Linked DNA regions of Homo sapiens: region 1 is linked to region 2. The links come from fine-mapping of genetic effects on gene expression. A gene starts in region 2. The other region holds a variant in brackets. All regions are shown on one strand. Distances are from middle to middle. Region 1 overlaps CSDC2 (cold shock domain containing C2). Region 2 holds the start of SREBF2 (sterol regulatory element binding transcription factor 2).

Region 1 (15,887 bases), 260 kb after region 2:
CAGAGAGTACTGCATGGCTTCCAGAGGAGGAAGCTGAATCTTGGAGGATGAGTGGCAGGGAAGCCAGGGAAGGGCGGTTCTGACAGAAGGACCTGCATGGATGCCTGTGTGCAGAGGCCCACAGGTGTGACTGGCTTCTTTGGAAGAAAACCAAGCTGCAGAGGGAGAAAGGCTGGAGAAGCAGGTTGTAGCCTCAGATTGAACAAATGGCCTTTGAATGTGAAACCAAGGGTGTAGGCTTCCTCTCTCTTTACTTGCCCGTGGGGTCACAGACGTGGTCTCACACTCTTTCTTCCTCCTGTCCTCTATGTGACCCTGAAGTCATTGAGAAGTTTGATTATGTGTTTGCCGAGAACGGGACGGTGCAGTATAAGCACGGACGACTGCTCTCCAAGCAGGTCAGTGTCCCCCAGGGCTTAGCCAGGGGCACCCCACTTTTCCATAGTGGAGCAGTCCAAGGGGGCTTCTGTCCTGGGCTGGGGGAGAGACACTGTGCCTGTCTCAGGGTCAGGCAGCCCAGGCCACGCTCAGAGCCCTGTGTTCCTTGGCCAGACCATCCAGAACCACCTGGGGGAGGAGCTGCTGCAGGACTTGATCAACTTCTGCCTCAGCTACATGGCCCTGCTCAGGCTGCCCAAGAAGCGGTGAGGTCCCACCAGCCTGGTCTCCAGAACCTGGGGCCTGAGGGAGGAGAAGTGTGGGTCCCTCAGAGGGAACCTGGAGATACTTGGGCCCCTGATTTTTTGCGGGGAGTGTGGATTCTTGTCCCCTTTGAAGTCCTAGGAGGCTGGGGTCCCAGGTGGGGCTAGATTTGAATTCAGGGCCGTTCTGGTTCTCTCTGGCTCCCCGCCCTCCCTCACCACCAGTGGAACCTTCATCGAGTTCCGGAATGGCATGCTGAACATCTCGCCCATCGGCCGGAGCTGCACCCTGGAGGAGAGGATCGAGTTCTCCGAACTGGACAAGGTACCACTAGCTATGCAATCTTAGGCCTGTAGGGCCTCAGTCACTCAATTTATCTGAGCCTTTATTTTCTCATCAGTAAAATAGACTGGGGGATGTGTTCTGATTTAACTGATACCCTTTCAGGCACCTACTGTGTGCCATTGTTGTAGACACACCTGCATCTTTACAATGCTGCTGGTCCCCCTTCCTAGGTGACCAGCACCAGGCAGCCACCCACTGAGCCAGGCCAACACCTGGGAACATCATTTCCACCTTCCCACCCACATCGGGTCCAACAACTCTTATTTCATCAGCCTCTCGAGTCAGTGTCAAATCTGTTCATCTGCAGAACTGAGACCCCACTTTCTAGATTACCCCTTTCCCCAGCCCCAGGCTGCCCCAACTTTCCTCTCTGTCCCTCCCTACCCCTTGCATAGCCCTGCCAGCCTGCTCTCCAGCAATGCCACTGAGAACCTTTCTTTCTTTTTCTTTTTGGAGATAGAGTCTCCAAAAAAATAGATAGAGGCTGGAGTGCAGTGGCATGATCTCAGCTCACTGCAACTCCCACCTCCCGTGTTCAAGCGATTCTCCTGCCTCAGCCTCCCAAGTAGCTGGAATTACAGGCATGCACCACTACACCCAGCTAATTTTTGTACTTTTTTAGTAGAGGCAGGGTTTCACCACGTTGGCCAGGCTGGTCTCGAACTCCTGACCTAAGGTGATCCGCCTGCCTCGGCCTCCCAAAGTTCTGGGATTACAGGCATGAGCCACCACGCACAGCCCATTAGAACCTTTCAAACATGTCAGCCGCATTCACCCCCCAGCCCCACCCCCTCATTTACAATCCTTCCTTGGCTCCTCGTTGCCAACTGGATGATGTCCTAGCCCCCTGCTATGGTGCCTCAAGCCCTGAGGGCTCTGTCTGGCTCTGGCTCTCCGCGTCTCCTTTCTATGCCCTTCAAGTTCCACTTTCTATTCCTGGAACACACCAAGGTCCTCTCACCTCTGCCTGTACTGCCCCTGCTAAACCTTGATGTGCATTTTGCTTTTCTCCCCACCGCCTCCCTCCCTCTCGGGGATGGAGCAATCCACCCATCCAGACCTTTCCATGCTGGCCCGTCCACGTCATTCTGTCATTCTCTCTGACCTGTTCGGTGGCTCTCCCTGCCCTCTGCTCCAGCTATGGCCTCTTGGCTGATTCTAGAGTGCTGTGCCTCTGTCAGAGCACACTTCTCTCAGGCCCAGCTCGTCCCTCCCCTCCTTCAAATCCCCTTTCACATCCTTTTCCCAGTGGGGCCTCCGAGAGTATCACATCCACTGCTGCACTTCCTCCTCCTTCCCCTACCTTATTTCTCCCCAAGTAGCCTTGGACAACTTTCATCATCTACTTTTAAAATCCGAATTACTGTCTGTCCCTGTCCCAGAACTGTAAGCTCCATGAGGGATTTCTGCGGCTTGTTCTCCTCTGGATCCCCTATGCTTGGCACATGGCATACTTTTTGTTGTTATTGTTTTTGAGACAGGGTCTTACTCTGTTGCCCAGTCTGGAGTGCAGTGCAGTGATCCAGTCCTAGCTCACTGCAGCCTCGATCTCTCAGGCTCAAGCGATCCTCACACCTCAGCCTCCTGAGTAGCTGGGACCACAGGTGCATTACACCATGCCAGGCTAATTTTTAAAATATTTTGTAGGGATGGGATCTCGCTGTGTCTCCCAGGCCAGTTTTGAACTCCTAGCCTCAAGTGGGCCTTCTCCCTCAGCCTTCCAAAGCACCAAGACTGTAGGTGTGAGCCACCGCACCTCGCAAAGAAATACCCTTTTTTGTTTTTTTTTTTTTGGAGACTGAGTTTCGCTCTGTCACCCAGGCTGGAGTGCTGTGGCACAATCTCGGCTCACTGCAACCTCCACCTCCCGGGTTCAAACAATTCTTCTGCCCCAGCCTCCCAAGTATCTGGGACTACAGGCACATGCTGCCACGCCCGGCTAATTTTTTTTTTTTAGACAGAGTCTTGCTCTGTCACCAGGCTGGAGTGCAGTGGCACAATCTCGGCTCACTGGAACCCCTGACTCGCTGGTTCAAGCGATTCTTCTGCCTCAGCCTTCCCAAGTAGCTAGGATTACATGCACCACAATGCCCAGCTAATTTTTTGTATTTTTAGTAGAGACGGGGTTTCACCATGTTGGCCAGGATGGTCTCGATCTTCTGACCTCGTGATCCGCCTGCCTCAGCCTGCCAAAGTGCTGGGATTACAGGCGTGGCCACTGTGCCCGGCCTAATATTTTGTATTTTAGTAGAGATGGGGTTTCACCGTGTTGCCCAGGCTGGTCTCGAACTCCTGAGCTCAGGCAATCCACCCACCTCAACCTTCCAAAGTGATTATAGGTGTGAGCCACTGTGCCCGGCAAGAAATACCTTTTGAATGAATGAAATGAGCTGTATTATCTCCATTTTATAAATGAGGAAACCAAGGCTCGATGAGAAGGGCCCTGCCCGAGGTCACATAGGGAGTTGGTTGCAGAGCAAAGATTTGATTTTGCCATTGGCCCTCTGGTGCCTCCCTGAGGGTGCCTCTCAGCTCAGTGACTCCTGACTCCCACCTGTGCCCTGAGGCTTAGGGGAGGCAGTGCCCACAGGCACAGGGACTTTTTTTTTTTTTCTTGATAGAGTCTTGCTCTGTCACCCAGGCTGGAGTGCAGTAGCATGATCTCAGCTCACTGCAACCTTCGCTGCCTAGGCTCAAGCAATTCTCCTGCCTCAGCCTCCTGAGTAGCTGGGATTACAGGCCCATGCCACCACACCTGGCTAAGTTTTTTGGTTTTGGTTTTGGTTTTGGTTTGGTTTTGGGTTTTTTTTTTTTTTTTTTTTTTGAGATGGAGTCTCACTCTGTCGCCAGGCTGGAGTGCAGTGGTGAGATCTCGGCTCGCTGCAACCTCTGCCTCCCGGGTTCAAGCGATTCTCCTGCCTCAGCCTCCCAAGTAGCTGGGACTACAAGCGCCTGCCACCACGCCCAGCTAATTTTTGTATTTTTAGTAGAGACAGGGTTTCACCATGCTGGCTAGGATGGTCTCGATCTCTTAACCTTGTGATCCGCCCTCCTTGGCCTTCCAAAGTGCTGGAATTACGGGCATGAGCCACCGCGCCCGGCCTAATTTTTGTATTTTTTAGTAGGGACAGGGTTTTGCCATGTTCAGGCTGGTCTCAAATCCCTGGCCTCAAGTGATCTGCCTACCTTGGCCTCCCAAAGTGCTGGGATTATAGATGTGAGCCGCTGCGCCCGGCCACGGGGACTTTTTTTTTGGGGTAGTTAGGATTGGTCTTAGGCAAAGAACCCTTCCCCCCCAATACACGTGCTGAGAAGTTATCCCTTCCTGTCCACCCAGGTTCCCAGTCCCAGCTCTACCCATTTGCCTTGTAACCTGGAAAAGCATCTTTACTAACGTGTGCCTCAGTTTCCTTATGTGTAAGGTGGGGGTAATAGCAGTTCCCATCCCATGGGCTGTCATGAGCACTGGATGAGGTGGCACATGGACCCCACCTGGCATGGAGTTGGGGAGCCACACCCTAACTCCCCACCCCAGAGCCTTCTCAAGTATTTTTGGCTCTTGTTTGCTCCCTTCTGGCACTGGAGGAGCATGAACCTTCCTGATCTGTGCGCCCTGCCCTGGCCCAGAGCTGGTGTAAATAAATGCTTAACCCAGCTCATCTTCCAGAACCCTGAAG[C/G]GGGGATGAGTACTTCCCTTCCTTAGATGAGGACACTGAGGCCAGAGGGTGAGTAACCAGCTCGAGGTCACAGTGCCGGTCCCTGCTGAGGCTGGCCTTGCACATGGGGCTGTCTAGTGACCAGCCTTGTTCTCCAGAGAAGGGAGGTGCAGCCAGCCTCGGCCATGTGGAAACATTTCTTCAGAGCCTGGGGCAGTCTTAGTGGTAGCCCTGGGCCTACAGAGTGGACGCTGGTGGGGACTCTGGCCTCCCTGGGGCCCACCTACCTGCTGGAAAGCCAGGCCAAGGCTGGCAGGGGGCTCACATCCCTTATCTCTGCTTTTCCATGAGAGGGAAGCAGGCAGGGGTCATTCATTACTTCTCTGTCCTTTAGTCCAGGAAATAGGCTCAGAGAGGTCAGGTGACTTGCCCATGGTCACACAGCTGAGGAGTACAGTAGCCAAGCCTGGCTACTTGCCTTCAGATCTCAGGCTAGGGGGTGTCTGGCTTTATATCTGACATCCTCCCTGGGCCACTTCTCCAAGCTCCATGCTGCTGACCACTGCCTGCCTTTCCGCCCCAGTCCTACCCGGCTCTGACTACAGGGCCATACCAGCCACCCCACTCCTGTGCTCCAGAATCCTCAGCGCCTCTTGGTCCCCCAGGATGTGGTCAGACTTCCCAGCCCGGTCTCGAGACCCTCTGTCAGCTGAATGTCCTGCTGGCTGGTTTAGATGTTCAGCTGCCCCTCAGACTGGGCATAGCTGCTCCCCTTTGTGGCCCTCTGAGATGGAGATCCTGGGGGCTGGCGGGGAGAATGTCCCCCTGCTCCACGTTTGCGGAGCTGCTGCCAGAGTTCCTGCTCAGAGGGACGGGGCCGGCCTGGGCACTACCTAGTCCCCAGCCCAGCCGCGTCTTTGCATGCTGGGTGCTCTGCCATGCCTGGCATCCTGCTGCCCTCTGTGAATGCCCACAGCCACCTCCTCACAGGTCTCCTGCTCTCAGCTCCCATGCTCATTTCTGAGTATTTGCTTTGTTGAGCTGGTTACAGATAACAGGATCGAGCCCTGCCCTGAGGTGGACACTGATGTGGGATCCAGATTGCCCCGTCTCCTCGCCCTTCCTACTCGTGTCTCTCCTCTGAGGTCTCCTTCAGAAGACCCAGCCCACAGCCCCATTGGCAGCCCCATCCCTTCTGGATTTAGGCCCTGGCTCTGCCACCAGGGCTAGGTGACCTTGACCAAGGCACAACCCCTCTCTGAGCCTTAGTTTGCGCATCTGCACAGTTGGGGGTCCTACCCACCTAGAATGCTCAGCACGCTCACGTGGACTGTGTGCCCAGCCAGGGCCTGGCACACAGCAGGTCCTCTGAGCTGCCATCCGCTCCCTCCCCTCTGCAGAAAGAGAAGATCCGGGAGAAGTTCGTGGAAGCCCTGAAAACAGAGTTTGCTGGCAAAGGGCTGAGGTTCTCTCGAGGTACGTCCACCCTGCAGAGGACCTGGGAGGCCTGGTACAGGGCCCCTCCTCAAACCATCTGCCCCTGCCAAGACCAGGCTGTGGCCCCCAGTAGCTTTAGTAGCCCCTCCCCGGCTCAGGGCAGAGAGGGTGGCTGAGCCCGATGCAGAAAGGGGTTCAGTGTTTACTGGCCCCCAGTTTTCCCCACCTCATACCTCAGAGGTAAACGCCCCATGCCCACCCAGTTTCTCAGGCCAAAAAACCAGAGCCTCTCCCTTGAATGCTCTCCCCCACCCCTTCCCAAGTCCAAACTCCTAGAAGTCACAGGGCCCCCTGTCTGGAATCCCACCGGTGCTCACACTTCCACTGCCAGCAGCTTGTCCCAGGCTCCAACTGACCCTGACACAACTGGGCTCCCCTCTGCCACCTCACCCATTCCCCAGTGGCCAGAGAGGCTGGAGCTGGAGTCATGACATGCCTCTGCCCAAAGTCCTCCCCAGGCTCTTCCTCCCTCTCCATGTGATGCCCAGGGCCTGCCCGTCCTCCCCCTACCTCTCCTGGCCTCCTCCGTTGCTGGGACGCTCGTTCTCTTCCCTGCCTCAGGGGCTGTACTTTGCGCCCCAGCCATCCCCACTCGGCTCAGGTCCCAGCTCATTGCCACCTCCTCAGAGGTCTCCCCTGATCACCCTGGCCGGATGAGCTTCCCCCACCCACTTCATGGTCTTGTTCATTCTCCAACCTGTGTCATAACTTCCTTGAGGATCCTAAGTCTGTCCCGTGTCCTATTCCTGGCCCTCAGTAGGCACTCAAGGGTTGTTGAATGAATGAATGAACAAGCAGCCCTTCTGTTAGCCTTGTCTGCCCCTCCCAGCAGGGAATAACAGTCCCCACCCCTGCCCACAGGAGGCATGATCAGCTTTGACGTCTTCCCCGAGGGCTGGGACAAGCGCTACTGCCTGGATAGCCTGGACCAGGACAGCTTCGACACCATCCACTTCTTTGGGAACGAGACTAGCCCTGTGAGTGTGGCCCACCCCAGGTTTCCCCTAACGCAGTGGACAGTGAGAAGCCAGGTCTGGTGGCTTCTCCAATGCAAATCACCTGAGGTCAAGGCCAGAACATGGGGCAACACAACAGACCTCTTAGGGGGCTCCTGGAGAACAACCATTGCTCACCAGCCCCGTTACACAGATTGGAAAGCTGGGGCCCCAAGAGGCTGGGCACTTGTTCTACATCACACAGCAAGTCAGGGCAGGTCTGACAAGGGGTGAGAAGGTGGGCTTCCTGGCAGTTCTGAAGGGGCAGGAGGAGGGGCAGGTCCGTAGCAGCCAATGTGGAGAGGGACTCCACCTAAATATCCCTCCTCTGCCCATCCTCTGTGTGCAGGGTGGGAACGACTTTGAGATCTTTGCCGACCCCCGGACTGTTGGCCACAGCGTGGTGTCTCCTCAGGACACGGTGCAGCGATGCCGGGAGATTTTCTTCCCAGAGACAGCTCATGAGGCGTGACCGGGGCCCACATCTGTGTGTCGTGACTTCTGAAGAGTTTGGCCTAGGCCTAAAGAGAGGTCCTGGTGTTGGATAGATGCCAGGGCCCCTCCTCTGGCCCAGGACGCCTGCTGCAAGCCCACCCAGATGGGGCCAGAGTCTGTGTGGACAACCGTCCCCAGCCAGTCTGCTCCTAGTGGCACTGGCTTCGTCCTCCCAGGGCCCAGAGTGTTCCCCATGCTCCACCTGGTGGCCCAGGCCACAGCTGCTGCTTGTATTTCGGTACAGAAGAGGTTTCTTTCTGCACCAGGAGGAGGCGTGCTCAAGTATCGGTACGAGATCTAGCCTGCCCTGCCTGCCTGCCCTGGGCGATGAGGTACGGTGGGGAAGGTGCCTATTTTAGAGAACTTTGTCACAGTATTAAAGTTCCCAGAACAAAGTAGGTGTCAGCTGTGTCTGAATGGATAATTGGCCCCAGTCACATGCTGTCACAGCCACTACTTTGCCGACAAGTAAACAGCACAGAGAGGGCAGGGACTTGGCCCAGGTCACAAAGGAAGTCTGATGCAGTCGAGGAGGGGGCCATTGAATCCCCAAAGAAGAGCTGGTTTGGTGTGTCCACCCCCAGCCCCTTCCTTGGGGACCCTGACACAGAGGCAGCTTCAGGCCACGGTGGGTCACAGTTGAGGGTTTATTGCCAGTGTTAGGAAGAATGGGGGGTCTGGGTGGCCAGGGGTCTTGGGAGGAATTCCAAATGAGCACTGCAGGGCCTGTGAGTGGGGAGGAGAGCTGCTGCCCCCCTGCCACCCAGGAGGCCCCAGGGCTGATGCCACCATATCCTGACTGCTAGTGGTGCCTTAAAAGGTGGCCTCCCCACAGGAGGGGAGCCTTGGGGGCCCCCAGGAGTCAGCCCTCACCAACAAGCCCTCTCTCAAGGGGGCCAGGGGCCTTTATTCCTCATGGGACAGGCTGGGCCGTGCCCATTTTAGGGGAGCTGACCACACCTCAGCAGCTCTGGGCTCCCAGATTTTATGTGGTGGGCCCTGGGGCCGGGGGTGGGATGCAGGCATCCCGGCTGATTTCTACCCTGCGGTCTTGGGGCACCTACAAGGCAAGGGATCCTCCTAGACAGTCACTGATCCCCTCATCCTGGGCATTTGAGCCCCCAGTTTTACTCACAGACTGAGTCTCATAAGGGTCCCACCCCTGGCCAGCCCTCCCTCGAACCACGGCCCCACTTCTCCCCGGTCAGGCGATGTGCTCTCTAGAAGGGAGGGTGGTAGGCAGGGGGTGCACCCAGAGGTGGAGGCAGACAGGGCCCTCCTTCCTGGCCTCCTGGGCCAGGCCACCCTCACCCCTGCCTGGGAGTGAATGGCCACGACCCCGGGTGCACACACATCTTGGCCCCAAAAGGACTCCAGGTGACAGCAACAGCCACACATCTTCAGGGATGGATGCAATAAGAGCCACACCTCGGCCACTGGTCTGTTAGGGCTTTGGGAAGAGAGTTTGACGTGGAGGCCGCAGGGCCAGTCTCCCAGGCTGGGGGCCCTCCTCGTGGGTGCCCCGGACGTGTGTCCGTCCCTCGCGGCATCCACAGCAGCCGTCAGCCGGGCATGGCCCAGAGCATCAGTGGGGCTTGTGAGTCAGGGTAAAGGAGGTCTGCAGCCAAGCTGGAGAGATGGACCCCCACCCTCTGCAAACCCCTGGGCTCGGCTCAGTACAGCCCAGGGGAAGGAGCCCAGCGCCACTGCCAGGCTGAGGAGGAGGGACTGGCCGGCGAAATGGGAGCCCCAAACCCCTTCCGCCCTCAGGCCCCTCTTCCTGCCTCTCCATGGCACTGAGAGAGCAGAGCAGGAAGGAAGGCTGGCCTCGGCAGTGAGAGGCCTGTGTGCCTCCGTGTCAGTCCTCCTCCCCTGCCAGAGGCTGAGAGGCTCCCCAAAAGCACCCATCGGCCAGGCTTCTGAGGGAAGGGTCCAGGCTGTGGCGGGGGACCTCAGCCAAGGGAGGGAGATGTAAGTAGCACAGAGAGCCTGGCTCCGGGCCAGGGACTGACACGGGACAGCTCAGGGGCGGAGGCCAGGGAGTGAGCCCAGCGCAGGCTCTCGCAGCTCAGTCACCGTGGGGACGGGTAAGCAGGAGGGCGAGCGGGTCCTGCGTGTCTGCGGCAGGGAGGGGAGGAGAGAGGCAGTGGACAGCGCGAAGCCAGGTCTGGTGGCCTTGCCCTCCACCTACCTCCTGGCCAGCTTGCACAGTAGTCACGGGTCGTGGGGTGGGTGGAGGCACACGCTCATAGCCACAAGCACAGACGGACAGACAGACGTGCACACTGAGGCCACCGAAGGACTCATCAGCCAGGGCAGTGGGGCATGGAGCCGGCTGCTGCCCGTTCACCCTGTGTGGCTCCCCAACCCCCGGCCAGCTGGCCTGTGAACCACTCAGCCTAGGAGCCCACGACCTGGCCAGACCACGTCTCGTGGGGAGTGTGGGGGGCCAGCTGAGTGAGCACCACCTCCACGGCCTGGAACTTCTGGTTCTTGGGAGGGATAGGGCACATCTTGTAGGTCACCTCGTCGCCCTCCACTGGCACGTACTCCCCCTCGATGCTGGCGGGCAGGAAGAGGGGTATTAGCCCAGCAGCAGGCCCTGTGCCCCAGACAATCCTGTGGCCTGGCCTTGGGGGCAGCCTGGCCCTAAGCCTCCCTAGGCCAGGAGGCCTGGCCAGGCCTTGCTTCTCAGAACCTCAGCTCTCGAATCTGTAAAACGGGACTCATGGCTGGGCACAGTGGCTCACGCCTGTAATCCCAGCACTTTGGGAGTCTGAGGCGGGCGGATCACCTGAGTCAGGAGTTTGACACCAACCTGGCCAACATGGCGAAACCCTGGCTCTACTAAAAGTACAAAAATTAGCCAGGCATGGTGGCTGGCACCTGTAATTCCAGCTACTTGGGAGGCTGAGGTGGGAGAATCGCTTGAACCCAGGAAGTGGAGGTTGCACTGAGCCGAGATTGTGCCATTGCACTCCAGCCTGGGCGACAGAGCGAGACTCCCTCTCAAAAAATAAATAAAATAAAATAAAATGGGACTCATAAACTGTACCTCCCTTTCTGGGTCCCTTGGGGACCGAGATGTGAAAGGGCACGGGGAGGTCCCTAAAGCTCTGAGAAGCTCAGTGACCTCCCCCGGTCCTCCTGGCATTAGAAGTGGGTGGGGCCAGGCCTAGACATGATATCCATCTCTACCTCCTGGCCCACCCACATGAAGGCCCTTTCCAGGCCAAGAGGCTCAGGAGCTGGCCTAGCCCTCTCAGACCTCCACGATGCTGTAACAGGATCCAGGGCCCAGCCGCTGGCTCCCAGGCTTCTGGGGTCTGCGTGCCCACTCCCTCCCTGGCCCCAGCCCTCCTCTCCCAACGCACCCTCAGCCCCTACTCAGAGGACAGAAAAGGCACCATGAATACAGACCTCAGCCAGTGAGAGGAGAGGCCTGGAGAGCCATTTTTGAGGCACCATTGGGGACACTAGGGCAGGGGCCAAGAACAGGGAGGTGGAGGGGACTCACTCAGACACATGTACGAAGATGTCCTCGGACCCGTTCTCGGGGGTGATGAAGCCATGGCCCTGTGAGCGTGAGAACTGCTTACAGACGCCCTTGAACACGGGGCCAGCTGAGGCCCGGGCTGTCCTGGAGATAGGGTAGTGGGATTGGAGCTGTGGCCTGAGGAACTCCTCCCCGGATCCCTACAGCCATTCTGGGCCCTTTCTGCTGAGCGTGCCTCAGGGCTGTGAGAAACTTGACCCAGGCCAGAAACCACACAGTCATCCCCATTCAACGATAATGAGGCCAGGCACGGTGGCTCACACCTGTAATCCCAGCACTTTGGGAGGCTGAGGCGGGAGGATCACTTGGGCCTAGGAGTTTGAGACCAGCCTGGACAACATAGGGAGACTCCCATCTCTACAAAAAAAATTTTTTTTTTTTTTTGAGACAGGGTCTTTCTCTGTCACCCAGGCTGGAGTGCAGGGGTGCAATCTCAGCTCACTGCAACCTACACCTCCCAGGTTCAAGCAATTCTCATGCCTCAGCCTCCTGAGTAGCTGGGATTACAGGCACCCACCACCACACCCAGCTAAGTTTTGGCATTTTTAGTAGAGACAGGGTTTTGCAGTGTTTGGCCATGTTGGCCATACTGGCTTGATCTCCTGTCCTTAACTGATCCACCTGTCTCGACCTCCCAAAGTGCTGGGATTACAGGCATGAGCCACCATGTCTGGCCCAAACATTTTTTTAAAAAAATGAGCTGGGGGTGGTGGCACGCACCAGTCGTCCCAGCTACTCAGGAGGCTGAGGTGGGAGGATTGCTGAAGGCCAGGAAGTTGAGGCTGCAGTGAGCCATGACTGCACCACTGCACTCCAGCCTGGGCAACAGAGCGAGACCCTGTCCTTCCCAAAAGATCCTTTGGCCTCCCCCATATGGACCCGTATTACTCCCCTATGCCACCTCATCGGTGACCTACCCCAAAGGCCCAGGCCTAGTCTTTGTCCCGCCTACCTACCCCTCTCCAAAGGTTAACTCCGTGTCTTGGGTTTTGCCCATGCTGTACCATCTGCCCAGAATCGCCAGCTCCCTTCTTCACCTGATACATCTTCCATACCCAACCAGGACATCATCTCCTCTGGTACCCCATGCTGGGTCCTCACCCCTAACCCTGCTGGGTGGTAATGGATGGTGAACAAGTTCCCTCTGGATTGTAAGCAGCTTATGGATCCTGACTGGTCAGGAGCTCAGTAAATCTTTGTGGAATAGATGGATAGATGAATGGATGGGTGGATGGATGGACGGACAGACGGATGGATGGACGGATGGATGGGTGGGTGGATGGATGGATGGATGGATGGACAGGTGGATGGATGGATGGATGGATGGATGGATGGATGGATGGATGGATGGGTGGGTGGGTGGGTGGGTGGGTGGGTGGGTGGGTGGGTGGGTGGATGGATGGATGGATGGATGGATGGATGGGTGGATGGGTGGATGGATGAATGGATGTATGGGACAAACATCCATCCAGTTACTGGAAGGTCCACACACAGTTCCCCTGTCCCAGGTGAGGACAACAGGAGTTGGAAGAGGATGGGGATGGTCAGCCCCTGTCCTGACAAGGGTCAGGGGCCTGGGCAAGGGGCAGGTACTCACGCTGAATAGGTCCTGGTCCGCTTGGTGGGCAGAGGGCTGGGTAGGTCCCGAGGTGGGACACCACCCCGCTCCCAGACCCTGCTGCCCTCCCTGTGGAAGGGGAAGGTGGGCCAGACTGGGGACTTGGGGGAGTGGAGCGGGGGCACAACTGGGGGTGACGTCGACTCTGAAGTCATGGTGGGGCCAGCAGGAGAGCCTGGTGGGCTCTGGGGCCCAGGGGCCGGTGAGGGGTTTGGTCGTCCTTGCGGGCAGGGCCCGGCCTGGCCCTGCTCTGCGGCCTCACCAGCCACGGGCTCCGTCTGGAAGAGGAAGAAAGAGGCACAGGTGAGCCTAGTCCAGGGGAGCAGCTCCTGAACCCTGGCCACAGTGAGGAGGGCTGGTCCCACCTGCTATCCTCACGGCGTTACTTCAAGTCACAAACGACCCCATCGTGGTTCAGAGTCCTCACCAGAAAAACAAAACTAGGGGTCATATGACCCCTAAGTCCTTCCAGTTTGCAGTTCAATTCTCTTAACTCCAGGGGCCTGGGAGGTGGCTGGGTAGGGTGGCCAGTGATGGTCTAGAATATGGTTCGGCATAAGGGTCAGTTGTTTCAGAGTCACACATCTGGGTTCAAACCTTAGCTTTGTCACCTACAACTTGGTGACTTCAAGCAAGCCAAGCCACACATCAGCTCCAACATGGCAGGTGGGAGTATGGGCTCCACACCCAGGCCTGGGTTTGAATCCTGCATCCTCCACCTTCTGGCTACATAGCCTTGGCTCTGGTCAAATTTTTTTTTTTGTTTTAGACAGAGTCTCACTCTTGTTGCCCAGGCTGGAGTGCATTGGCACGATCTCGGCTCACTGCAGCCTCTGCCTCCTGGGTATAAGCGATTCTCCTGCCTCAGCCTCCTGAGTAGCTGGGATTACAGGCGCCTGCCACCACACCTGGCTGATTTTTTGTATTTTTAGTAGAGATGGGGTCTCACCATGTTGGCCAGGCAGGTCTCGAACTCCTGACCTCAGGTGATCTGCCCACCTTGGTCTCCCAAAGTGCTGGGATTACAGGCATGAGCCAACTCGTCCAGCGCATTGGTCAACACTCTTAACTTCTGACTCTTATTTTCTGTTCTGTAAAATGGGGCTAGCATTGATCCTTTGTTTTTTTTTTTTTTTTTGAGACATGGTCTCATCCAGTCTGGGGAACACTGACATGGTCATGACTCACTGCAGCCTCCATCTCCTGGGCTGAAGCGATCCTCCCACCTCAGCCTCCCAAGTAGCTGGAATTTACAAGCATGCACCCTCACACCTAGCTAATTTTTTTTTTTTTTTTTTTGAGACAGAGTCTCACTCTGTCACCCAGGCTGGAGTACAGTGGTGTGATCTCGGCTCACTGTCACTTCTGCCTCCCAGGTTCAAGTGATTCTCCTGCCTCAACCTCCCAAGTAGCTGGGATTACAGGTGCCTGCCAACACGCCTGGCTAATTTGTGTATTTTTAGTAGAGACGGGGTTTCACCATGTTGGCCAGGCTGATCTCGAACTCCTGACCTCAGTTGATCTACCTCCCTCGGCCTCCCAAAATGCTGGGGTTACAGGCCTGTGGCCTCCAATTTATACCCCTCCCACCCCAGAGCTTGGAGTTCCCAGGGAAGGAAAATCACCCACAAGGTTCCTGTAAGGTTCCTTGGAGTCCAGAGCTCAGAAAGCCTGAACACCCTGCATGGCAGGCCTGGATGAGTCCAGGAGTCCACTGGAGCAGGTCTTCTGGCCTCTGCTCAAGATTATACAGCAAGTGGAATTTTTCTGAACCAAGATGCTGAGCTGGCTCTGCCATGCCTAGGGGTGGAGGTGGAGTAGTATCCTCCCTCCTCCCAAAACCCTCCCCCTCCAGTCAGGAAGGCACTGGAGCCCCGGGCTTGGCTTGCCTCACAGACCCTCAACCCTGAAAAGGCTGAAGTGGGGCTTTTCTGTCTAAGCTCATGCCAGGTTGGCAGGGCAAACCAGGTTTGGCCTTTTCACCCATTATCCTCATTTTAGAGAGAAGAATACGGAAGCTTCAAGAAGCAACCACACAAACAGCCGGGTGTGGTGGCGCACACCTGTAATCCCAGCACTTTGGGAGGCCAAGGTGGGCAGATCACTTGAGGTCAGGAGTTCGAGACCAGCCTGGCCAACATGGTGAAACCCCGTCTCTCCTAAAAATACAAAAATTAATCGGGTGTGATGGCATCCACCTGTAGTCCCAGCTACTCAGAAGGCTGAGGCATGAGAATTGCTTCAACCCGGGAGGCAGAGGTTGCAGCAAGCCAAGACCACACCATTGCACTCCAGGGTGGGTGACTGACCCAGACTCTGTCAAAAAAAAAAAAAAAAAAAAAAGCAACCACACAAACACTTGGACATAAATGTTCATGAATGGTCACACCAGTGCTCATTCACAACAGCCAACAAGTGAAAACAGCCCGAGCCCATCAGCAGATGAATGGATAATAAATTATGGTCTAGACACATGGTAGACTAGCACTTGGCCATAAGAAAAAGAAAAGAAGAAATACTGATTCACGCTACACCCTAGATGAACCCTGCACACATTATGCGAGAATGTTTGCAAGGTCACAGAGAAGAAGCCAGTCCCAAAAACACAGAGGGCATGATTCCATCTCTGAGGCAAATCCTCATAGACAGGGAGTCCACTGGTGGTCACCAGGGCTGGGAAGGAGGGAGAGGGGAGGGCTGCCAATGGGTAGAACGTTTCTTTTTGGGGAATGGAAATGTTCTATAATTGGCTGTGGTGATGGCTGCACAACTCTGTGAATGTACTAAAAACAACTGAACTGAACGCCTTAAGCAGGTGAATTTTATGGTATATGAACGATATCTCAGTAAAGCTGTTACCAAAAAAAAGAAGACGGGGCAGCAAAGTTACCCAAGATGACACAGCTGGGAAGCACCAGACGCCCTGCAGTGCACTCCTTGAGTGCCACCTGCCCCACCTGGGTGAGGGTTGGCAGGCGATGGGGACAGAGGCCCTGCCTCCCTCTCTCTAGGGAGCAGGGCGGTCCTGGCCTCCCAACTGCAGTTTTCCCAGGCCTGGTATTGTGCTTGGCAGTGACAGCCAG
Region 2 (15,887 bases):
CTTCCAGAGAAGAAAACAGGTCACACAAAGGATCAAGAATGGAAATGGCATCAGATTTCTCTACTAGAAGCAAGAAGATAATCAGACAATGCCTTCAAAATTCTGACATAAAACTCTGTCCAACCTAAAATTCTAAACTCAGCCAAACTACCAAAGTGGAATGAGGTTGGTAGAAAGATGTTTTTAGACAGGCAAGGCCTCGAAGAGTTACCTAAATGTACTCTTTCTCAGGAAGCCACTGGAGGATGTGCTCCACTAAAATAAGTGAGTAAAAATCAAGAACTGGGAAAGAAGAGCTTCAACATTGCCCCCAAGGGTGATGGTTAGGGGTTGTCCCAAGATAAGTGAAGGGAGAGCAGACCTAAACCATAGCCATCAGATGGGACAGGAAAGAAAGGAACTGACCACCACATTGCAAGTTTCTGTCACAAGATTTAGGGCAAATTAGTTACAGGAACATAGAAACTAAGCATGTGGGCCGGGCGCGGTGGCTCACGTCTGTAATCCCAGCACTTTGGGAGACCGAGTCGGGTGGATCACAAGGACAGGAGTTCAAGACCAGCCTGGCCAAGATGGTGAAACCCCGTCTCTACTAAAAATACAAAAAATTAGCTGGGTGTGGAGGTGGGTGCCTATAATCCCAGCTACTTGGGAGGCTGAGGCAGAGAACTGCCTGAACCCAGGAGGCAGAGGCTGCAGTGAGCTGAGACCGCGCCACTGCACTTCAGCCTGGGCGACAGAGTGAGACTCCGTCTCAAAAAAAAAAAAAAAAAAAAAGAAACTAAGCATGTGAATAAATGGGACTATTTATTATAAGCTCTTGGAAAACATAAACAACAAAAAATGTAGAAGATCTACCCAAGAGAAATGAACATATATGTCCACACAGCAACTTGTACACAAGTTTGTAGCAGCTTCATTCATAATGTAGCCAGAGTGGAAACGGCCCAAATGTCCACCAACTGAAGAGTAGATAAAACAGAATGCGGTGTGTCCATGCAATGGAACACTACACTGCAACATGATGAACCTAAGCAATATTATGCTACCTGTCTGATTCCATTTATGAGTTGTCCAGAACAGGCAAACTCATCAAGACAGAAAGTAGATCAGCTCATTGAAAAAATTATTCTACTTTCTCCAAAGAGAACTACTTGCTTCCACCTGCCCATCTCCCACTCACCCCTGCTTCCTTTCTGCCTTGGATTCCCTCATCTGACTGTTCTGGCAAGGTTTGGCCTCCTAATACCAAGTCCCACGACTCCTTGCATGGCCTTGTCATCCTTGTTGTTCTCTGTGGCATTGTCTCCACCATCTACAGACTACTCCTTGAAAAGCTAACACTTTCCTAACCTCTAATCTCCCAGTTCTCTCCTCTTGACTCAGCAGTGACTCTCTTCAATCTCCATCCCAGTTTTACCTTCTCCTAAGTATCTACATCTCATTTCCTAATGGATGACCCCCAGGCACCCCAATTTCAGCACAATTAAGATAAATTTTCATCATTTCCCCTAACCAGCTCTTTCTGCTGACTCCTAACTCCCCCAGTGCTCCAGGCTCAAAGTCTTAATGGGATCTTAGAATTCTCCCTCTGCTCTGCCTTCAGGGACAAGCCTTCAGTGAGGACATGTCCTGTCACATCCCCAACACTCACTCCTTGCTCACCCAGTTGGCCACTCCAACCTTCCCAATGGTGTGAACACTCAGACTGAACTTGAGGTGCTTTCCTTTCCTCATCAGACACACCTTTACAGAACACCTAGTCAGTGCCAGGTACTGCAGGGTACTCTGTCAAACTGGGTTTCTGCAGGGAGAAGCAAGCAGAGGCCCAAGTCAGTGCCATGGAAAGGTATTTGAATGAGGGCCACTTCCCATCCAAATTTGTCACCCTTCATCACCTCACACCTGGATGGCTACAGTTTCCTAATTGGCCTCCCTGCCTCCAATCTTCCTTGCCTATCACCACCGTTCAATTTTCTTTTCTTTCTCTTTTATTTTTTTGAGACAAGGTCTTGCTCTGTCACCTAGGCTGGAGTACAGTGGCACAATCTGGGTTCACTGCAACCTCCGCCTCCCAGGTTCAAGCGATTCTCCTGCCTCAGCTTCCCAGGTAGCTGGGGTTACAGGTGCCCACCATCATGCCCGGCTAATTTTTGCATCTTTAGTAGAAATGGGGTTTCACCATGTTGGCCAAGCTGGTCTCGAACTCCTGACCTCGGGTGATCCACCCTCCTCGGCCTACCAAAATGCTAGGATTACAGGCATGAGCCACTGAGCCCAGCCCACAATTCAATTTTCTTAAAAACCCATGATTAATATGTCACCCCCTACTTGAAAATCTTCAACAATTCCCTATCTTCCATAAAACACCTTGCATCTACAGTACAATTTAGCTCCACCTCACCTCTCAGACCTCATCTTCTACTGTTTCCTCACACACACTATATTCCAAGAAATCTCTAGTAAACTTTCATTTCCAAAGGCAGCTTGTTCTAACTCCTCCCACATACTTGTCAGGCTGCTCCTGCCACCCATCTATTTGGACCCAGCAAAAAGGTCACCTCCATGACTGTTTCTTTCCTGATCCCAGTGGAAGAGGATCCCACCTTGCTGCCCTTCCAGAAGACCTGGTGTGTAATGGCACATGAGGCCCTTTCTCAAAATAGAGATATATAACACAAAATGAAATGGTAGACTTACTCTATTATGGGAAACCTGGGGGCCTGGGACAACAGGACGTTCTGCAGTAGTACAAGACCCCAGAGATCAACTAGCACACATGCTTTATTGGGTGCCTATAGTACTTTTTTTTTAAATGAGCCAACATATAAAAATCTGGGTATTTCTTTCTTTCTTTCTTTTTTTTTTTTTTTTTGAGACAGAGTCTTGCTCTTGTTGCCCAGGCTGGAGTGCAATGGCGCGATCTCGGCTCACTGCAACCTCTGCCTCCCGGGTTCAAGCAATTCTCCTGCCTTAGCCTCCTGAGTAGCTGGGATTACAGGCATGTGCCACGACGCCCGGCTAATTTTGTATTTTTAGTAGAGACGGGGTTTCTCCATGTTGGTCAGGCTGGTCTCAAACTCCCAACCTCAGGTGATCCACCCGCCTCGGCCTCCCAAAGTGCTGGGATTATAGGTGTGAGCCACCGTGTCCAGCATTTTTTTTTTTTTTTTTTTTAGACAGAGTCTCATTCTGTTGCCTAGGCTGGAGTGCAGTGGCATGATCTCAGCTTACTGCAACCTCTGCCTCCCAGGTTCAAGTGATTCTCCTGTCTCTGCCTCCTGGGTTGCTGGGACTATAGGCGTGTACCACCATGCCCGGCTAATTTTTGTATTTTTAGTAGAGATGGGGTTTCACCATATTGGCTAGGCTGGTCTTGAACTCCTGACCTCAGGTGATCCGCCCACCTCGGCCTCCCAAAGTGCTGGGATTACAGGCATGAGCCACTGTGCCCGGCCAAAAATCTGGGTATTTCAAATAAAAATCCAGACTTCGGCATCTCTTGAAAAACAGACACTGATACCTCTCTTCCAAGAAGCCTCCCTGGACTTCCGAATCTAAGTAGGCTAGCCCAGTCACACTCTATAATATGGCCCAATTTTATTTTGCTCACAGTGCCCTGCCTAAACTGTTCATTTATTTTACTCAACTTGTATTTCCTCCATCAAGAATGTAAGCTTCGTGAGAGAGAAGACACATGATCTGTCGCGCTCAAGTTATCCTTTGTCCATCATGAATACTTAGAAGCCATTCAATGAGTAAATGAATGTGGCCTCCCTGAGCCCATATCCTTGAAGGGTACCAATGGACTGGAACACAGCAGACATTGTGGAATGAATGGATCCTTGCCTGCCTGCACCTCCTGGAGGCTCTCTAGGTTGCATCCACCCCTTATCCCCACCATACACATACAAAGGAAGTAAATGTACTCACCCTGCCTGCCTCTCCCCTTCCTCACCTGACCGGCTCCTAGAAGCATCCAGGCTGGCTATTTCCTTGATCTAATCCAACTCCAAACCATGTCCAAGACAATTAGTATCCTGCCCAGCCCAAGATCACTGGATCACTCAGGCATTCCACAAATATTTAATGGGCACTCTCACTGTGCCAGGCACTGTTCTAGGTTCAAAGAATTTAGTGGGAATGAAACGAAGGTCTCTGCCTCAAGGAGCTAACATTCAGTAATGGGAACACAGGGGTGAGAATCAAGGGATAATTTTATCTTCAGACCACTGACCTTCAGCATGCCCAACTCTTTTTGTCCTCCAAGGCCCAGGTCAAGAGCCACCTCTTTGGTGTGGTCTTCCTGCTAAGCCAGCCTTTACCAAGCTACCCTCACTGCTGACTTTTACTTGTTGTGCTGTGCAATTTTAAGCTGTTCCATACTGGCACTAGAGTTTCTCATCTCAAGCTCCATGAAGCCATAAAATTCTATGCTATCTTTCACGATTCCTTACAGCTCAGAAACCACAGCCAGCACTTGAATACTTGTTGATCAACTGAAGACATGGAACCACTTTTCCCAAACCTGGCCCCTAGGTCTCCTGTGACACAACAGCCACACCTCTTCCTTGTGCGGTATATAACTATTTTGAGAAAAAGCCTTATGCACTGTTATAAACCAGGTCTTCTGGAAGGACAGAGAAATGGAATCTTCTTCCACTGGGATCAAACCTAATGGACCTATGAAGCCACTGAACCACTGTGGTAGTTTCCAGAGGGTGGTAGTTTCCATTTTATTCAGAAATCTGTGGGGATAAAGACAGTATTAACCACTAGGTAATTTAAACTCATTACAAATTAAGACAGGGTCGGGTACAGTGGCTCATGCCAGTAATCCCAGCACTTTGGGAGGCCAAGACAGGAGGACTGCATGTGCCTGGAAGTTGAAGACTAGCCTGGGCAACACAGTGAGACTGGCTCTACCATATATATATAAATTAGCTAGGTGTGGTGGCACATGCCTTAGTCCTAACTACTCGGGAAGCTGAGCTGGGAGGATTGCTTAAGCCCAAGAGTTCAAGGCTGCAGTGAGCTATGATTGTGCCACTGCACTCCAGCCTGGGCAACAGCCAGACACTGTCTCTAAAAAAAATTAGGTGGCTCGGCCAGGCACGGTGGCTCGGCCAGGTACAGTGGCTCATGCCTGTAATCTCAGCACTTTAGGAGGCCAAGGTGGGCGGATCACCTGAGGTTGGGAGTTGGAGACCAGCCCGACCAACATGGAGAAACCCTGTCTCTACTAAAAATACAAAATTAGCCGGGCGTGGTGGCGCATGCCTGTAATCCCAGCTACTCGGGAGGCTGAGACAGGAGAATCGCCTGAACTCGGGAGGTGGAGGTTGCGGTGAGCCGAGATCGCGCCATTGCACTCCAGCCTGGGCAACAATAGCGAAACTCCATCTCAAAAAAAAAAAAAAAAAATTTAGGTGGCTCACACCTGTAATCCTAGCACTTTGGGAGGCCAAGGCAGGAGGATCATTTGAGCCTAAGAGTTTGTGCTATGATTGTGCCACTGCATTCCAGCCTGGGTGACAGAATGAGACCCTGTCTCAAAAAATAACTAAATAAATAAAAATTTAAATTTAAAAATCAGATAAACAAAATAAGACAAATAGGAATTGATCATGGAATAGGAATGCAAAATGCACATGAATTTCTTTCTGTGCCCTTGCAGGTAGGCAGCTATAGACATACAGTACTTTCTACTGGCTGTGTAATCTTCAGTAAATTAATGAACCACCCTGGGCCTCACTTTCAGGATCAGTGAGAGGGAGATGACAAGTATAACAGTTCTCTCTACCTGACAGGGTTGTTAGGAAGATTGAGAACATTAACGTGTATAACTGTTTAACACCGTCTGGCACAGAAGTTCTCAAAACATGTTAGCTGCCCTTGCTATGTTCCCAACCCCCACCTACCCCATCCCCCATTTGTTAACCCATTTCTGTATTTAGAAGCACTTAGCAAAGAGTCTGTGGTTAGAACTGGGGCTTCAATTAAGGGTCTTATCACACTGCCCACATGACCAAAATGGAAATCAAGGACAAACCAAGGGGAGAAATATTACAAAAGCAAAATGGGAAAATGGCAAACAGATCCTTTTCAATTAGCTGCTGCATTTATCTCTTCCCCCAAAAGAGAATCTTCTGCTGCTTCTGCTTCTTCATCTGCACAACGGGGATGTAGCCATCATACATGCCTGCAAGGCTGTAGTGAGATCCTGGACATGAAAGCATTCTGAAAACTGAAAAGTACAATGCACCTGTGTTTCTGCCTAAGCTCTCTAAGGTGAGTGGCCTTAGATAAGTCAACATCTCCTGGCCTCGGCTTCTTTAATTACCGTATTAAAATAGAGGTAATAAGAGTATCTCACAGGATTGTTGTGAGGAAGAAGTGAAATAATACAAAGCATTTTGGGGCCTAAACATAAGAGTGCAACTATCCAGTTAATAAGATTACTAGCCTAGTCAACTGGACTCTTTCTTGAAAGGAGGGGTATAAAAAAACCAATACTGGCCAAGGAACTGCAAGAACTAGGCTCTAACCAGCTGGGTGACCTTGAGCAAGCCGCTGACCCTCTCCAAATCGTTGTTCCCGTGGTCGCAAAATTAGTATTTTAAGAGTGGATCCCTGGGCTCCTACCAGCTCTTCCACTCCGCTGTTAAGGCGCTGGAACAAAGGCCACCCGCTCCCCAGCCCGTACCCGAGGGGCCACAACTCAAAATTTCTTCTGCTCAATTCCCCTTGCAGCGTGACAGCAGGAGCGCCCGGGTCTCCATCCCGGAGAGATGTGTCCACACTCCGCCGCCACTGCTCTCTTCATCAGCAACTTGCTTCTGCAGTCGCTGCCCAAAGTTTCGCGGAGCACCCGGCGACCTGGCCGTCGGTCAATCCTGAGAAGCCCAGGGATTCGGGGCGCGGAGACTGGGGGCTGGGCCCCGGGAATCCCAAAGACGTCCCCGCGGCCAGGAAGGGAGTGACAGGTGCGACGCGCGGTCGCGGGCGGCGGGAGAGCGGACCACGGAAACCGCGTGTGGGCGCGCGAGGGAGGCGGCGGCCACGCGCTCTCCTTAGGCCGCTCCCTGAGACGCCCCCGCGACGTCCCTAGCCCCGCGCTCTGGAACCCGCGACCCTCGCGCCGCTTTCGGCCCCGCGGCGCCCCAGATCCCACGGCCTCCCGGAGCGGCGCAGCTGGGTCGGGCTCACGCTCGCAGCGCCGGAAGGGTTGAGGACCGCCGGGGGCACCGTGCGCACGGGGTTCTTCCCGCGCGAACCGGGGCTGTCGGGGGGTGGGCGCACGCGCACCCGGGCGCGCCGCCGTAACCCCTTCCTCCCCGCGCGGCCCCCGCACTCCCACCCACCCACCACTCACCGTCGATGTCTCCCAGGGTCAGCTCGTCGCCCAGCTCCGTGAGGGTCTCCATGGTCTCCAGACCACCCAGCTCGCCGCTGTCGTCCATCGCCCGGCTCAGCGCAGAAGCCCCCCCTGCCGTCCCGCTCAGGGAGACGCGGGGGCGGTGCCGTCGCCACCGCCCATGACACCCGACAACCCCCGCCCGGCACCGCCTCACCGACGGGTGCCACCCGCCGCCATGTTTGCGTTGCGCCCGGGCGCCGCACAGAAAGGGCGGGGCGGGATTCCCCCGCCCCAGCCCGCGCCCCCTGCGGCCCCGCCTCCAGGCCGCGCGCCCCCCTGTTTGTTGTCAATGGGACCAGGCTCATCTCAGCCAATGGGCGAGCGAAGCGGTGCGTGGGGTGATGGCGCGTCATCGATCAGCAGCTCAGATTTGCATAGTGAGGTCCCTCCCCCCGCGGCCTCGGAGCGAATGCCTGGAGTAGCCGTCCGGTCATCATCTTAACCTTCTCCGCCTTGTTTAAAGGAGCCGCTGCCTTCTCCGTTGGATCTGCGCCACACGCAAGTCCGTCCACTGGCCTGGGAGTGAAGGGTTAACAGGCCACCCTCCACCTGCGACCGCTGGCCGCCTCCAGGCCTGGCTGGGAGCACATTACGTCATCTTCCCAGCTGCCTACCCCCGCCCTGCCCGCCTGAGAAAGCCAGCGGAGTCAAACCTGGACCCCAGCGCTCGGGACGGGAGTCCGGGTCATCCAAGTCCCGCTTCTCCCAGCCTCCTTACAAAGGCGGGCACGGAGGCTTGACAAGGTTGCAGATTGTCCCAGGGCGGTCAGGATTTTACGTCTTCTGCTTTGCACCCGCCGTGACCTCGCGCTTACTCCAGTGGTCCTCAATCTCTGGCACCTCGGAACCACTGAGGACCTGAAAACCACGCCAGTGCCCAGGCCCACCGACGGCCTCCTGAGAGGGGGGCCCCGGGCACGAGTTTTTTGAAAAAGTTCCACCGGGATTCTGAAGTGCAGCCCACCCACTCCTTCAAGCACCTCACTGCCCCATCTTGCAGCTGGTCGTGTTGTAAACTTCTAGGAATTTATCCAAAGGAATAAAAATTACAAGTGCTTAAAGAAGTGCTGTAACTAGGAAGAAGTGAGAATAAGGAAATGAATATGTAAATTACATCCACACGATGGAATACCATGGGATCATTAAAAATTACGCACACAAATGTATATTTATTAGCAAGAAAAGGCGTTCACAATATATTGATAAAAGGGAAAAGTTGAAGTTTCCTGCCAGTTTGTGAGAGGCAGCTGTTGCTTAGTGATCAATAATTAAGAACACACAGGCTGTGTGGAGGCAGACACATGGATCCACTAATTCACTGTGACCTTGGGTTAATTGTTCTAAGCCTCAGTTTAGTCATCTCTAAAATGGGGATAAAATAGCATCCCTCATAGCTGTGGTTAAGTGAGATTATTTGCACATTCAATTGACAATATTTATTGAACATCTCTGTGGCAGGGAAACAAATGGTTCCTGCCCTCTGAGAGCTTCCAGTCTAGCAAAAAAAAAAATCAGAAATCCCACACCCGTATTAAACATAAAAATAAATTACAGATGATGGTACAAGTGATCAAGGAAAGGTAATGGATGTGATGAAACTAACAAGGGCCCTGACTTGTGCTGTCAAGAAGCCTCTGAAGAAGTGACATTTAAGATGAAACCTAAAATTATGAGAGAACTGCAGCTGTTACAGCCAAAGGGGAAATGATGACATGGACAAAGGCCTCGAGGCAGGAGGAGCTGCTGGCAGCCAGCTCTCGGCATAAGCTTTGGCATACAGTAAGTGCCTTGCATACTGCTGTATTGCAATTGAAAAAATAAGGATCTGGCCAGGCGCGGTGGCTCACACCGGTAATTCCAGCACTTTAGGAGGCCGAGGTGTGCAGATCATTTGAGGTCAGGAGTTGGAGACCAGCCTGACCAACATGGTGAAACCCCGTCTCTACTAAAAATACAAAAATTAGCCGGGTGTGGTGGCGCATGCCTGTAATCCCAGCTAACCGGTAGGAGAACTGCCGGAACCTGGGAGATAGAGGCTGCAGTGAGCTGAGATCATGTCGCTGCACTCCAGCCTGGGAGACAGAGCAAGACTCTGTCTCAAAAAAAAGAAAGAAAAAATACAAAGAGAGTCCGGGCAAGGTGGCTCACGCCTGTAATCCCAGCACTTTGGGAGGCTGAGGTGGGCGGATTGCCTGAGGTCGGGAGTTCGAGACCAGCTTGGCCAGCTTGGTGAAACCCCGTCTCTACTAAAAATACAAAAATTAGCCAGGCGTGATGGTGCATGCCTGTAATCCCAGCTACTCAGGAAGCTGAGGCAGGAGACTTGCTTGAACCCGGGAGGCAGAAGTTACGGTGAGCAGAGATCGCGCCATTGCACTCCAGCCTGGGCAACAGGAGACTGCGTCTCAAAAAAAAAAAAAAAAAAAAAAGAAAAGAAAAGAAAAAATAAGGATCTGTGTGCTCACCTGAAGGTTAAAAACGATGGAAGACCCAACAGCTGGCTGTCAGACATAGTTACAGGAGTAGTGAGATTTGGGGTGAATTTTACTTTTGGAGTGAATTTTACTTTCTTTTTGGCATTTCAGTATTGCTTAAATTACGTTTTATAATGAACGTGTATAACTAATGAGAAATAGATAGTGTCTTATTTTTTGGGAAAGCAAGACAACATTGTTCTCGTCATTGTTCACACACAGGGAGGCTGGTATAGAATACACCAGTCTCACCCTGAAAGACACAGAAAACTAAACCCTGCTCTGGACACAGCACTGAGCAGGAAGGTGCCACCTTCAACTGTGCTGCCCAGTGGCTCTTGCAAGGCCCCTCACACTGGTGTGTGACTGGTACTCTGGGGGGATTCAGCAACAACTCCCATACAACTCACTCTGGCCCAGGGCACCCCCCACAACCCAGAACCTCAGTGACCCCCTCCAGAGGTGGCACACAGCACCTGCTCCCATAGTTCCCCACTGAGCCTGCCCAGAGGGCGTGATGCCTCGCCAAGTGGACTGAAGGGGTACAACTGAAGGCTCAGTAGAAATGGTGGAAGAAGGGTGGCTGGACCCGAACCTCAGGAAGCACTGATATTTTCCCTCTGGCCCTGGATCCCATGTAACTGAACATCTCTTCCAGGTGGTACCTTGCTCTGGCTAGCAGGAGGACAAGGGCTGGCTCTGAGAGGTAGAACAGCTTTTGACAAGTCACTCCTCAGAACCTGAGCTCTTCATCTGAAAAGAGATGGACAGCCGGGCACGGTTGCTTACGCCTGTAATCCCAGCACTTTAGGAGGCCGAGGCAGGCAGATCACGAAGTCAAGAGATCGAGACCATCCTGGCCAATATGGTGAAACCCATCTCTACTGAAAATACAAAAATTAGCTGGTCATGGTGGCAAGCACCTGTAGTCCTAGCTACTCAGGAGGCTGAGGCAGAAGAATCACTTGAACCCGGGAGGCGGGGGTTGCAGTGAGCCGAGATCGCACCACTGCACTCCAGGCAGGCAACAAAGTGAGACTTGTCTCAAAAAAAAAGAAAAAAAAGAAAGAAAGAAAGAAAAGGGATGGATTAGACTGGGTAACCACTATGTTTCGATATCTACCATGGATTGGGCATGTGCTACGGGTCACAGAAGATAATTTTGTATATGGTTTTTCATTTACTTCCTCTGACACTTTCCCCTTTTTCCCACAGCACCTGTCCTTTTCTTCCTCTTCCCCTAATCTTTCAGGATTCAGTTCAGATATTACTTCCTCTAGGAAGCCTTCCAATTGGATTAACCAAAAGCATGTACTCCACTGTTTGACACAGAGATGGGGTTAGAGAGGGAAATAACCAGTTTGGTTTTGGAAACATAAGCGATGAGAATTATCAGGTAGTAACCGGGCGAGTATTCAGCTTTTAGGTCTTAGAGAGTATGGCTGCCCAAAAAGAAAATAGAAACAGCTCCATAAAAAACTTCATGCAAACGGGGGCAGGTGAGGAAAGAAGAATCCGGAAGAGAGAGTCAGCTCAGACTTGACAGCAGAGAACTACAACAACAAGCCTGAGAGAATCACCTCAAGGAGCTGTCAACAGCATCTCTCTGAGGACAGTGATGGGGAAGGGGAGGAAGATGTGGGACTGGAATAAGGAGAAGGGCTGTGGACCAGAGAGGTTTTCCCTCCCAGTGGACATCTGGCAATGTCTGGACACATTTTTGGTTGTCGTAACTGGGGGACTGCTACAGGCACCTGGCAGGGAGAGGCCGGGATGCTGCTAAAATAGCCTACAACACACAGGACAGCCCTCTTCACACTCACACACCCAACGATTACCTAGCCCCAAACGTTAATAGTGCCGCTGCTGGAAAACGCTGTCTTAAAGGATATCAGGGAGCTCACAGACTAGCAGCTGAGTAGACAGGAGCAATGTCCAAGATCACACTGAAAACACCACTGTTGCCACCACTGGGCACCCTGGCACTGGTCACTGGACTTGGCATTAGAGCCACCCCTTCACTGCTGCCCCTGGTACCTGTGACCACTACCGCCACCAGCACGACTCCCACAGTGGTATATGCAGTTGGTAGCGCTATAGTGACCTAACAATCCCAGCTGCAAGAGGCAGCTGGACAAACATGTGCCCTAGGGCCTTTACAGCTCAGGGGGTGGGCTCTGTCTGCAGTAAGACTCAGCAAGTGGACTTCCTGGAGCAAGTGACTATAACAATCAATAGTGGCAGTAAAGGGAGGGAGAGAGGGAGCGAGTGGAGTAGTTCTATTTGTTTCTTTGAAGGTGCCCATTTGAGGGCAGAAAGGACAGGATTAACCAGGTTGGAGAGAGGATGACGGTATTAGAGGAAAGAGCCCAGGAGGAAGGAGGTGCCAGAAGGGGCAGATGAGGAGATAGTTCAAGACCAGGCCCCACTCTTTGGCTCTGCATATATAGCAGGCAGTCAGTAAATACATGGGATGAACAAGGAACCGTCAGAGAAGGGCACACATCACTGAGAAGTCACTTAAATTCCAGGTTTCATCCTTTCAACCACTGGGCATTCTGAGATGGGGGGCCCAAGGATCTGAGTGTGAAGAGCCTGGTTCTGATAACAACAGCTGGCAAGAGACAGCCCAGGCTGGTCCCAAGTTGCCCAGGTCTTGCCACCACACTGGGCTGGCTTCCCCATTGCTCTGCAGTTGCCCAGCTCTGCTTCAAATTATACAAATCCTGCTAATGACAGAGCCCGTAGAAGTTATTCAGTAGAAAGAACCTCCAGCCGAAGCTGGACCCACCACTGACTGTCCTGAGGTATGCTTTAGCCTCCCTGCCACCCCAAGAAAGCTAGGTCTGCTGCCAACCAGGCCTGGTTCTTAGAAAGTTTTTTCTCCAGTTAAGGGGAAAGCCAAGCACCTTCTCTGCTAAGTCAGCAACCACAACCACTCTCTAGCATGAAAAGGACAGCGACTGGCCTGGTCCTTCCGGCAGGGAAGAGCTTGCGGGCTGGTCCTGACACCCAGCTCCAGCTGCTGGCACCAGGACAGGTTAAACAGCTGAGCCAGTGAATCTGACCCTTTCCCGTTGATGCAGGAAAATAGGGTCTGGAGGCAGGGAACATAAGGCCAATTCACGCTTCAGCTATAACAGGGAATATCCTCCCCATAGGGTATATGCTGTAAATGAATTTGTAAATTTACTTCATCCTTTCCATTTACATAGGGTGTACCTCAAGTAACCAATGGAATCCTCTAGTGGGTATTTACTCCCAAAAATTCTGTAACGGGCCCCTTGAGTCCCTATGCTCAGGCCCTCTCCCATGCTGTGGAGTATACTTTCATTCTCAGTAAAACCCTTCATTCCTTCCTTGCTTTGTGCATTTTGCCCAATTCTTTGTTCAAGACATCAAGAACCTGGACACCCTCCACTGTTAATGCCATGGACCAGCCCTTTAGTTCACAGACTCGGGTGTCCATGTGGCTGGGGTCACACAACCTGAGAAGGGCAGGGTGGAGATGAAACTATGTCTGTTGAGTCAGTCCCACCACACTGCCCTGCCTCCACTGCCCAGTGAGGGGCCTTCTGATGGGGAAATTTCTCCAGCACTCCTCCCAGCCCCCACACCCAGCTCTCTTCCAGCTGCTTCTTGTCCCCTTACTTCCGAGTAACTGATGGGTGCAGGATGTTCTGGGCCCTTCCATGAGGCTTCTCTAAGGCTTGGCTTCCCTTTGCTGCTGCAGCCCCGTAGGGAGGCCAGCCTCAGAGAAACAGGTTAGGGCTGGGCAGGGGATACAGATACCATCAAATTCATTTTGCCAATGAAGCTGCAGCACAGGGAGGGGTGGGCCAAGGCCAGTCAGCAAATCTGAAGGGCTAACACTCAGATCTCACTTGTGCTCTGTCAGTGGTAGGGGGCTGGGTGTCGAGGGGATCTGGGATGGTTTTCTCTGCTCCTTTAAGAGGCAGATCCTGACTTGGCAAGGTCAAAGAGGCAGAGCTAGAATTCTCACTAAAGCCCTTCCCTCCTCTGCTTGGGAGGGGCATGAGTGAAGGGCAGCTGCCCTACCCAGGGCCACATGCCCTCTGCAGCTTCCCTGCCCTGTGGCCTCCCGAGACGGGAAGCTGTCTGACCCATGCAGCTTAGGGCAGCCATTGCGGAGCACGGCCTCCTGCAGGGCTGCGGCCTGTCCCCCTGCAGCCCCCCACCCACAGGTTGACTGTCTTCCAGCGCTGCCAGAGAGAACAAGCTGACTTCCCTGTGCTTGCTCAATGACTGTCCCCAGACATCTGAGGACAGGGATCATGTTGCTCCAAGGTCTTCTTGAGCTAAATGTTTCCCAGGTCCCAGGGCACTTCCAGGTCCTTTCCCAACACCAATCATTTGTCAAGGGCAGTGATGGCGTAGGACCAGGAGGCCCAAGCCAAGCCCCTTCCTTCTCTGCCCTGCCAGGGCCTGGGGCCCCTCCTGGTGGGGCAGAGGCATCCTCCAAGCTGTTTCTACATCCCTGAGGGGCCCTGGTCCCCTCACAGTGTCCCCACCAGCCTTGGTCGGTCCAAAGGGTCTGCTGGCTTTTATTGTGTCTCTGCAGAGGGGCTGGGACCTGTGCCAGGCAGCTCTGTGACACAGTGGGGCCAGCAGCAGGGTGGCACCCTGACCCGTGGCTCAGAACCTAGTTCTGCTGCTTCCCCACCAAGGGCGGAAGCCAGCTGGCCAGAGGTCTTCAGCCACCAACAGGGTCCAGGCAGGCATCCTCCTGCCTCCCCCAGCAGTCTGCACAGGGTCATATTTCCAGCATAAAATCCTCTGAAGGCCCCTTCAGCAGGAGGCCCCTGAGAGAAAATCCAGCCATCTGAGGCTCAGTCCCTTCAGCTGGGGCTCAGACCCAGCTCCAGGGGGCCGGGCAAATGTGGCCTCCCCTTCTGGAAGGGGCTAGCTGGTGCTCTCCACCACAACCACACCTCCACCTCTTCTTCCTCCCGACCTGCCTCCTTGTGGCCCCCTGAGCCCTGAGCTGCTCCAGGGCTATAACTCAGACTGGGATCTGGAGATCCTTGGGCCTTTTCGGATCTCCTTCCGCTTCTCCTCTTTCTTTCGGCGTTTCTCTTCTTCTCTCAGGGCCTTCTGGAAAGGGTCAGTGCTGGGAATGAACTGAAGGGAAGAGAAGAGCAGTCTGATTTAGTCTGTGGCAGCAAAGAGCCTGCTCTGAGCTAGGCCACCAGCGGGGTGTGGGAATAGGAAGGTTCCCTGGACACAGGCCCTGCCCCAGACACGGAGACAGGAAATGGGTTTGGGAGAACTGCTGAGTGGGTGTTGGAAGATAAGCAGGAGTTTGCCAAACCAACGGCATGAGGAAAGGGAAGGGTATTCTAGGTGGAGGGACGGATGCTGAGGTGGGAACCTACATGGGGCATCTGAGAAACAACACACAGACTCCTCCAGGGTGAGGGAGTAGAGTGGCTGAGACCACCACAGACCCGGGAGCCCCACACCTGCTGCACCCTTCAGGAGGAGAGGAGGGAGGTCAGCCAGAGTCACAGATGACAAGGCAAGTGGGGGGGTGGAGGATGAGGACTTCATTGGCGGTAGGGGGTGGCGTGGGGGCATTCTTCAACTGCAACCCAGGCCCTTGGCTGTCCTCCCTCCTCTCTCTCCAGATTGTCTCGTCTAACTCATAGCTTCTGTTGGCCTGTGTGGTTAGTTACCCCTCAAACTTGCATCTCCATTTCCAAATGCCTGTCTGAGACCTCCTTTAGGATGTCCCAAATGCACCCTAGACTCAGTATGGTTCCCTCTCCCCAGAGTCCCTGTTCTGATGAGCAGCAGGGCAGAAACCGAGGAGCCCCACCTGCACCCGGCATTCCCTCTCCCTCCTCGGGTCCATCACCAAGGCCTGGCTACTTTCAAGCCCTAAATCTCTCTCAAACCCATCCACTTCTCTGTCTCTACTATTGCTGCCCCCATCACCACCCCCATCTCTCTGCTGGATGACTCTAGGGGCC

The links.
Region 1: its variant is fine-mapped to the expression of SREBF2 in whole blood (TOPMed, PIP above 0.99).

Annotation. Positions count from the first base shown.
Region 1 is chr22:41,569,038-41,584,924 of GRCh38, reverse strand. It overlaps CSDC2 (cold shock domain containing C2), which reads right to left. Exons shown (of 4, transcript NM_014460.4): 2 at 12,784-13,082; 3 at 11,148-11,270; 4 at 8,259-10,192. The coding sequence starts at 12,959. The coding sequence ends at 10,030. PMM1 (phosphomannomutase 1) reads left to right here. Exons shown (of 8, transcript NM_002676.3): 3 at 322-398; 4 at 553-644; 5 at 867-966; 6 at 6,044-6,119; 7 at 7,002-7,117; 8 at 7,485-8,025. The coding sequence ends at 7,607. Among named protein-coding and RNA genes, the nearest start is that of PMM1, 13 kb to the left of the region's middle. The variant C/G (reference allele first, on the strand shown) is at 4,665.
Region 2 is chr22:41,824,847-41,840,733 of GRCh38, reverse strand. It overlaps SREBF2 (sterol regulatory element binding transcription factor 2), which reads right to left and starts at 7,629. Exons shown (of 19, transcript NM_004599.4): 1 at 7,376-7,629. The coding sequence starts at 7,463. It overlaps CCDC134 (coiled-coil domain containing 134), which reads right to left. Exons shown (of 7, transcript NM_024821.5): 7 at 8,570-15,036. The coding sequence ends at 14,911. It overlaps SREBF2-AS1 (SREBF2 antisense RNA 1), which reads left to right and starts at 6,069. Exons shown (of 2, transcript NR_157279.2): 1 at 6,069-6,291; 2 at 6,754-13,253. RefSeq lists enhancers at 4,712-5,211, 5,212-5,713, 7,504-8,160, 7,766-8,275, 9,102-9,641 and 2 more and silencers at 6,936-7,325, 7,386-7,725.